3 linked regions of the Homo sapiens genome follow. The protein of the gene in region 3 interacts with the protein of the main gene of each other region in a pairwise test. Each region holds a gene or a part of one and is shown on either strand. Other genes may lie near its edges.

Region 1 (3,656 bases), on a different chromosome or scaffold from region 3:
TTGCAGTTGATTTGCTCCCCACGAATGCCCATTTAATATATAGAGAAGCATTATGAAGAAAGAAAATTTGAAGTTACCTGATAATCTCTTATTTAAAAATTTCCTATTATTGGAATTGTCTTCAGGTTTCTTTTCCAGAGTGGGCGGTGCAGGAAGCCCTTTGCCATTCAGAATCTGTCCAGGTGAAGGCAAGGTTGGCTTTGGTATTGAGGGGCAGTTAAGGCCAGGCTTGACTAAGGAACTCACAGTAGCAGGACAGGTTGGCCCCACCGCAGATTTCAGTAGTGTGCCATCCATTTTCGGATGAATCTTTTCCACTTTCACAGAGGGTGTCATGCTGTCACAGGAGGAAGTGAGAAAACCAGTGCCTGAGTGCCTCAGCAGCCCCCAGGTGAATGGTGAGCCAGAGGGATGAGGATAGAGCCTGGGCCTACCCAAGCGCTGCACAGGGCCAGCCTCTTGGAAGGCTCCTTATGAGTTTTGTTAGTAAGGTTCATACTGATTAAGTCTATAAGCCCTTCTGGTGAGGCAAAACCCTCAGTGGACCATCAAATTTGCCTGGTCTTTCATCATTTCAAAAAATTTTACACATGAGGCAATGGGAAACTCAGACCTGATACCCAATGCAATGCAATTTCTATAAGAAGCAAAACATGAGAAGGTCTAAAAGAAACAAAGACTATTTGCAGAACCCTTGGAGAATATCTTTTGAGGACTGCCATTTGTACGAAAGGATTCATCAAAACAAAGTAAACTTCTGAGTGAGCAAATATTTCCAATAAATGTCACTAAAGACTTATGAGAACTCAAACATGCTAAATAACATATCTCCAAGAAGAGGTTCTTTGCTTCTGTCAATAAGGGAGACTAGTGTTTAATAAATATATGTTGTGTCACTAAAGTGGTAATTCTCCAGTCCTTGAAAAATGTTTCTATGACAGGAGCTTAGGGAATACCTGTGCCATTAACAAAGATATGAATCTTGGAATCTTACTGACACTATCATTTTGCTTGGTAAAACTGAAAATACTGGTAGGAAGCTAACAACTGGCCTGGTTCCTATCTAAAGGCCTAGCTCTAAGTAAAGAAGATTTGAATCAATGAGGTTGTATAAACTTTGTTCAGTGGAGTCAGTGCTCTAACAGCTGTTAAGCTGGCCAGTGACTTACACACTACACTGGCACCGTTTGTGGCTTTCAGACTGCTCCCGGAACAAAAACCAAGCTTGCTGTACTGTACTTCTGACAGAAGAACAGGGGCTGGGGGCTTAGCAACCAGGACAAACAGCCCCAAACAACTGTACCTGGAATAGCCTGACAGCAGTAGAGAGACTGCAAGATGTCACATCCTCTCCCAGCTGGCAAGGTCCTTATGCAGCAGCAGGTGCTGGACCCTACCCTGAGATTAACCAGGTTACCGGATCTTGGACCTACGATGTGTGCTATACCCTCCAAAAGCAGGCTGGCCCAAGAAAAGCCATCCGTCACCAGGCTGAGGGATGCCATGACAAGGCGAAGCATGTTCCTATTGGAGTGCGTGGCTGCTCCCTCACGTGACCTCAAGAAACCTGTCAATCTACTGAGTGACCATGGAAACTTGCCAAAGCCATGCCTGGCAGGTGTGAACTTCCTTCAGTCTTCCCTCATCACTGCTGTGATGTGAACCTAAGGCTGAAGGGAGGAAGCACTGCTTCCCTATTTGCTCCGTAGACCCCCAAAAATTCTACAGCAGCATCTGGGAATCTCTGCATCTTTTTATCATTACTATTATCCACAGCAGCAGTAGCAGGAGTGCCAGTATCCATTTGTTAACCGTCCCCTATGGCCAGACACTATGCCAGGTGCTAGACATATATTAACTAAAATATTCTCAATAACCCAGCATAGTGGCTGTTATTCTTAGACAGAAACAGTGCCTTGCCCAAACCCCTACAGCTAAGAAGTGACAGAAATGGGACACAAATCCAGGCCTATGTGACTTGAGGCCTTTTTGGACAAAACTCCCCCACCTCACGAAGCTTCCTTCTCCTCATCTGGAAAACGAGGATAGTAACAGTACCTATTCCATAGGGTTGTTGTGATAAGTGACATAGTACACACATAGAGTTAGGTTTCAGTAGCTAGCACACAAGAATGGATCAATAAATGTTAGTAACCTTATTATCACTGCTATTACTACTCTGAAAAGTTTCCTATGACATGACAGGGAAACATCAAGAAACAATACAACATACATTTGAATTCTTCCCCAAGTAGACTCTCTTTTATATTACTCACAGGCACTCTCACATGCCACTAGTGTACACAGTTTCATTTCCAGCAGGTAAGCTTTAAAAACCCTCTTGGCCATACTCACATTCTACCATGGGGAACTCTACTTTGCTGAATGGGATGCATTGGCCTGGTGTTCCCCCTGAGCTGCAGTTTCTCTTTGGGTGATTTCAACAACTTGGAACTTGATGAGGATGCGCTAAGAACACCTCCACTGGAAGAACGGTTGCTTCCACTTGCACTGCCTCCTTTGCTTTTGGACAGAGAAGGGAAGAAGGAAAATACTGAAGTGGGAGGAACGGCCAAAGGCGGCTTGCTGGATGAGCTATGTCTTCTTTCTGAAAACGAAAGCAAAGAAAAAAAGACATCATGTTTTAGGCGAATCTCAAATGTAATTCTGGAAGAATTCCCTGAAATCAATATATTCAGGTTAAAACACGTGTCGTTAAGTGAAGGTATGTTAAACTCAGCAGACTTCAGAAATGGCTCATCTAGGCCCCACAGACTTACTTAGCATTCTAGGAACGGGTCCTTCTCTTTCTGAAGTATCTCAGCATAAAGAGTTTTATCACATACACCCATCAGGAAATTAGACAACCATCGTAAACATGAGAATATTGCCTTTTGGGTTTTGCGTGCTAAAAATGAACCTCATTGGCTCCAACTTGCATTAAGAGAGAGGAAAATTATTCATTCATCTGCAGAGCTCTGCTAAATGACACTGCAAGCAATTCTTTCTTCCTTTCTAACACCGCACCTCTCTGATTTTCAAAATAGCAAAATCTTAAGAAACAAGTTGTACCTTCTTTTTTTTCCCTGTCACTACCCACCAGCAGATGACACCAAATAAGAATGTTTCTAGGGTTATCTTATCGTTCCCTAAGAATCTGTGCTGAAATTTTCCAGTGAATCATTTCACTTCCCACCCCCCCTTTTTTAATAATCTCACTTGACTACAGATGGCATAGCTCCGGTTCACACCGCTAAGATGCCAAAGGCGCAAGACAAAAATACCACAAATAGCTACGCCTGTTTTTTAAACCAGGAAGTAATTCATGGTTAAGTACAGACTACAAAGGTTTAGCTGAAAATAAATCTATCCACTGGAGAATCAGGTTTTCTTAGAGTAAGGTAATCCATACTAATATAAATCAAGAGCTGTTGAAGAATGTTACCATCAGAAACAAGTAAATCATTTGGTAACTTTATCCGCTTGAGTACCTTAGTGGCTGCCTTTAATTAATTAATTTAAAATTACACATTTGCTTAACTCTAAGTTTTAAAATGCATGTGATCCAACACTGCCTTATCACAATACAGGAGCTATATAAGTATTTAAAACATTAAGCACATGATGATCAATGACCACAAGTAAGACTTCAATGG
Region 2 (2,564 bases), on a different chromosome or scaffold from region 3:
TTTATTAATGTTATTTTTTCCCTCCCATAATATAAAAGTCAGCAGTGATATCAATAATTTATTATACTGGAAGAAATATAAAAAGAATGCTTGTTGATGGCCTAACTAGTGGGTTTTTTTTCCTAAATAGCGACTGGTTAAGAAGCTGAATACTGCCGGGTGGAATGGTTTAAAGGGTGGGTTTGCACAGCTTCATTCAACTCAGATGCACAAGTGCTACTAGAAGCACCCCCTTAACAACATGACCTTTGGCTTGAACTGGCAATGAGTAACTTAGAACCATTGATAAATGATTGTTGGTGCAGTGGGTCGTTTAGATTCATCAGTTACATTTTTTTTTTTTTCTTTCAGCCAAACCCCAGTTCCAATCCCCTAAGCCCCTCCCAACCTCCCCTTTCGCAAAATAAAATAATGCAGGTGCAGAAAAAAATGACTACTGTAGTCACTTACACTCTTCCCAAATAGCTGATAACCCCAGTAGCTTAATATTCAGCATATATAATTCATTTACATAATATAGCACTCTGGATATGGCCCTAAACCAGTTTTTATTCATTATCTAGCATCTGTCTAGATCAACCACAAAAACTCCTACAGCCAGCAACCAAACTACGGAACCTTCAGAAATTAAAGACCCACAATATTAAAATACACAGAACAAAATATCTGAGGTATAAGATAAAAAATGTAATTTTTTTTCCTTTTTATTTGTATTTTTTTTTTTTTTAGAGTTGCTAAAATGATGTACTACTGCATGTATTGCAATACTCAGGCCTCGGAAAGCTTCCTTTCTCCCCACATTGGAAGGTTTTTATGGTTTTGTCATTTAGTATGGAGCAAAACGGTTGTATCCCCCTCGGTATATACTAGCCTGCAATGAAGAAAGAACGAGACCCACATCATCAGCATGGCTCCTAGTCTTGGCATCAGTCAAAGGTGCAAAAGCATTCTGAAACAAAGCAATTTGAGGGGTGTGTTTTTTACATTTTCCTTTTGCAACATGTGGATCATCAAAAAGACTAATGTGAAAAATAGACACTCAAAACCAACCGAAATGGAGGCACCCCCTACCCATCCCAGGTCATTCTTGGAGAACTAAAGATAGGGCCATTCCTGACCTTCCCCAATAGCTCCTCCTAAAGAAATTCCCTGCAAAACCAAATTCTGTCAGCCAGTCCTCTTAGCTAAAAGGACTCTATTATAAGCTGGACAATGGAAGGATTTTCACTGTCTCATTTTTTTATAACAGAATAATCTGCACTTGAGGTTGAATTTGGACCAGTTGTTGAATGTAATTCAACTCTCCAACACATTCCTCATGTGGACTAGGTGTTGAAGCAGAGTTGTTGAATGCAGAATTGGGATGAAAATCTCAACCTACTTCTTACTTAACTTGGCTCTGTAAGCTGTATGGAATCTGATCTTGAGAAGGGAGTTGTGGAGTTGTACAGATGAATTGCTTGATGTAATTAAGCTTGTGCAAAACAATGCTTCCAAATCATGGCTGAATTTCTATGACTGAGCTTCAGTGAACTGTCCGGCCATGGTTTTAATGGCTACAAGGTGGCACTTAACGATTTCCTTTTTCTAAAAGTATTGGCAATTCAAATGAATGCCTATGGGGATTCATTTTTAGGGTAAGGACTGATATTCTTGATCCAAGCAGAAAACTGCATGCCAAAGCTTTGTAATGATTGCATATGCTCTCACGTGATGGGCACGTCTTACTGTACTCAAGAGTTTCAGTGCATAGAAGTTTGAACAAGTACAGGCAAGTTCACCCCACCCTTACCTCCCATTTTTTACCCTCCCCCCACCCCCTCCCAAAACAAAAACCCAGACCTGCCCCAAAACAAAAGGCAACCCCCAAACCCAGCTGATTCCTTCTACTTTCTTATGTACTAGGTACACACACAAAGTGTGCCCCTCTCTATTTTCTTTCCTGGGCGACTATGACTTTAAACATGAATTGTAATAGGGGAGGAGAGGCAGTCAGATTCTCAGCTGCCTGACAGCAGAGGCCTGGAAGTGTGCAGCTTAGCTCCTCTGAAGTCTGTGCTGGGGCTGGAACCTTGGGGCTATGTGAATGAGCAGCAAGGGAGGGAAAAAAAAAGAAAAAAAAAAGTTCTGCATTGACACTGCATTCTGTTAGTGATGGATTTAATTATCAAAATGACTAATTATTCCATTAAGGTAAGTGCTCTGCTAGGTGAGACTTGCAAAATTAGAAATATAATAACTTACATGCACTACATTGCCAAGAAATTAAGACATTTATCAAGTTTACTGGGAGGATTAATGTGGCATTTTAGCTGCTGTTAGCACAAGAGACAAATTCAATTAACGGGAAGTGAGAGGACGTCAACCCGTACTGAGGTCCCAGCTGGGGAAAGGGAAGGGAGGCAGGAGGAAGTGAGGACAAGGAGAAACTTGTACTCACCATGGCACCAACGCCGTAGGTGGGGGCTGGAGCAAGTGCGTGGTGGTAGGGGTCGGCAGCATAAACTCGTCCGTAACTGAAAGGAAAATAGAGGTGAAGATTGATCCACAGTATGCAATTACAA
Region 3 (2,933 bases):
GGCCACCACGCGTGGTTTTGCACAGGACCTGGGCCAGCTGTGCACATGGAGCGGTCCTGGGCTTCAGTGGCTGACCCCTCCCTTCCGCAGCTGAAGTCGTTCCTCCGGGAGTGCAAGGTGGCCAACTACTGCCGGCAGGTGCAGCAGCTGCTTGGGAAGGTTCAGGAGAACTCGGCATACATCTGCAGCCGCCGCCAGAGGGTTTCCTTCGGCGTCTCTGAGCAGCAGGCAGTGGTTAGTGGGCCCTGGGGGTAGTGCCACCTGAGGGCACCTGCCAGGGTATAGCCCCAGCTACATGTGGGGGTTTGCCCAGGGTGAGGCATGACCCTGAACTCCCCCAACCCCCCAGGAAGCCTGGGAGAAGCTGACCCGGGAAGAGGGGACACCCCTGACCTTGTACTACAGCCACTGGCGCAAGCTGCGTGACCGGGAGATCCAGCTGGAGATCAGTGGCAAAGAGCGGGTGCGGCTCGGCGAGGGGACCTGGGGGTGTGTTGTGACTTCCTGGGTTTCAGATCTAGCGCACTATGACTTGAGACCAGGGCGAGGGTTTGGAAACAGTGCCAGGCGGCCAGGGCCGTGCCCGGATGATTCGACTTGGAGAGGGGGTAGGTGTTGGAGAACTGGCCAGAACCAGGCGTTTCCAGGGAGGGGAAGCCCCAGGCTGCACTAGGTTGGGGAGGCCATGCCCCCTCAGGCCTGATGGGCTGGAGGCTCCGGGCAGGTGGAGTGGCTGGACTGACCTCGTCACCCAGGCCAGTATGTGGGCACCAGGGGCCCGTGAGGAGAAGCAGGAAGGGCTCTGCCTTTGACCTTGGACATGGGATGGACAACTTGGAGGATGGCTTTGTGATTTGGGAACAGAGGGGACTAGAAATTGGCCACATGGGGCCCTGGTGGTGGGTCTGGCGATGCCTGGCCCTGCTGTGGCCGCCAGCCCCTGCCCTCTCTCACCTGAGCCCCTGGTTCTTTGGCCTTCCAGCTGGAAGACCTGAACTTCCCTGAGATCAAACGAAGGAAGATGGCTGACAGGAAGGATGAGGACAGGAAGCAATTTAAAGACCTCTTTGACCTGAACAGCTCTGAAGAGGACGACACCGAGGGATTCTCGGAGAGAGGTGGGGCCTGCGTGGTGCTCCCAGGGGAAGGGTGGGCCTGGAGGGCTCTGCTGGACTTCCCAGAGCCACGAGGGCCACCTGTACCCATCCTGCAGGGGGCTCACCAGTCTCTGGCCCAGCTGGGGCCAACCTCAGTGTTGCCAGGCTTCTGGTGCCAGCGCCTTCCCTCCTTGAAGTGAAGGCCTACTGGGATTGGTAACTCTGTCCCCAGGCCTGTGACCTCCCAGTTCCTCCCCAGGGCTCCTCTCCACCTGCTGGAAGTCAGCGGAGGGAAGGGTGTTGGGAGCCTGGCCACCCTCCTGCCCCCACTGTGACTTTGCTGGTGGACCCTGTGGGTGGGAGTCATATGGACTCTGCTTCTTGTTCCTCAGGGATACTGAGGCCCCTGAGCACTCGGCATGGGGTGGAAGACGATGAAGAGGACGAGGAGGAGGGCGAGGAGGACAGCAGCAACTCGGAGGGTGAATGGTCTTGGGGTGAGAGGGTGTGGCCCTGTGAGCCCATCTGGCGGGAGGGCAGAGCCACGTGGGCGGGGGGCGTGGGGCTCTGGGCCAGGCTTTTCCCTCCCTGGGAAGGCCAGGCCAAATGCTCTGTTCTCTGGCAGCCAGCAACAGGGATAAATTAATTAGTGCCGTGATTAATTAGTGATGAGTAACCTCTAAGGCTGGCTTCTTCCTGATAAAGCAAAATTTATGTAGCCTCCATCTCTCCCCGCAGATGGAGACCCAGACGCAGAGGCGGGGCTGGCCCCTGGGGAGCTGCAGCAGCTGGCCCAGGGGCCGGAGGACGAGCTGGAGGATCTGCAGCTCTCAGAGGACGACTGAGGCAGCCCATCTGGGGGGCCTGTAGGGGCTGCCGGGCTGGTGGCCAGTGTTTCCACCTCCCTGGCAGTCAGGCCTAGAGGCTGGCGTCTGTGCAGTTGGGGGAGGCAGTAGACACGGGACAGGCTTTATTATTTATTTTTCAGCATGAAAGACCAAACGTATCGAGAGCTGGGCTGGGCTGGGCTGGTGTGGCTGCTGAAGCCCCACAGCTGTGGGCTGCTGAAGTCAGCTCCGCGGGGGAGCTGACCCTGACGTCAGCAGACCGAGACCAGTCCCAGTTCCAGGGGGAGGCCTGCAGGCCCCTGGCCCCTTCCACCACCTCTGCCCTCCGTCTGCAGACCTCGTCCATCTGCACCAGGCTCTGCCTTCACTCCCCCAAGTCTTTGAAAATTTGTTCCTTTCCTTTGAAGTCACATTTTCTTTTAAAATTTTTTGTTTTGCATCCGAAACCGAAAGAAATAAAGCGGTGGGAGGCAGGGCCATTGTGTTGAGTGGTGGCTCCTGGAGATTTGTGTGGCCCCACCCCTACCCCCGGCAACCTCAACACAGAGGCTGGGAAGGGTCGGGGGCCCCTGGAAGTAGAGCCAAGGTCCCATTCTCCTGCTTGGGTGAAGTTTGACCGGCAAGGGCGTGGCCCCCTCCATAGGGGGACGTGGCCGTCGTGGGGGACAAGGGCTGCTCTCCTGTGCCGAGTTCTCGCTCCGGGGCCCGCAGGGTTGGTGGCTGCAGTGGCAGAGCCACGGGGAAGCTGGCCACGTAGAAAACTCGGCCCAGGCGCCTGGCCACCTGCAGAGAGATGGCCTGGTGGGGGCTGTCGCACACCCACCCAGAGCTTTCTGCCCAGCTGTGGTCTGGAGACCCTGACCTCACTCCCCAGCGTCTCACCTGGGCCCGGATCTTGAGGGCGGGCCCCAGCTTCAGCCCCATGTTGGTCAGCAGGTGCTCCTCCGTCAGCAGTGGCAGGGTCTCCCCGTCGATCCCCTGCTCCCTG

Evidence for each region.
Region 1: the proteins of NOC2L (region 3) and ATXN7 interact in a two-hybrid assay, tested with the Homo sapiens proteins (one study listed by BioGRID and IntAct).
Region 2: the proteins of NOC2L (region 3) and RBFOX1 interact in a two-hybrid assay, tested with the Homo sapiens proteins (one large-scale study listed by BioGRID).

The regions. Positions count from the first base shown.
Region 1 is NC_000003.12:63,978,867-63,982,522, reverse strand, and holds part of ATXN7 (ataxin-7), read right to left. Parts: intron 2,609-3,656; coding exon 2,356-2,608; intron 338-2,355; coding exon 78-337; intron 1-77. UniProt on the Homo sapiens protein: Acts as a component of the SAGA (aka STAGA) transcription coactivator-HAT complex. Mediates the interaction of SAGA complex with the CRX and is involved in CRX-dependent gene activation.
Region 2 is NC_000016.10:7,709,008-7,711,571, reverse strand, and holds part of RBFOX1 (RNA binding protein fox-1 homolog 1), read right to left. Parts: intron 2,517-2,564; coding exon 2,441-2,516; intron 2,079-2,440; coding exon of another isoform or gene 1,931-2,078; exon of another isoform or gene 950-1,930; coding exon 827-949; 3' UTR 1-826. UniProt on the Homo sapiens protein: RNA-binding protein that regulates alternative splicing events by binding to 5'-UGCAUGU-3' elements. Regulates alternative splicing of tissue-specific exons and of differentially spliced exons during erythropoiesis.
Region 3 is NC_000001.11:943,703-946,635, reverse strand, and holds the end of NOC2L (nucleolar complex protein 2 homolog), read left to right. Parts: intron 1-90; coding exon 91-234; intron 235-349; coding exon 350-463; intron 464-982; coding exon 983-1,118; intron 1,119-1,489; coding exon 1,490-1,579; intron 1,580-1,835; coding exon 1,836-1,942; 3' UTR 1,943-2,433; downstream 2,434-2,933. Other genes in the region: SAMD11 (sterile alpha motif domain-containing protein 11), read right to left, coding at 2,483-2,728, 2,828-2,933.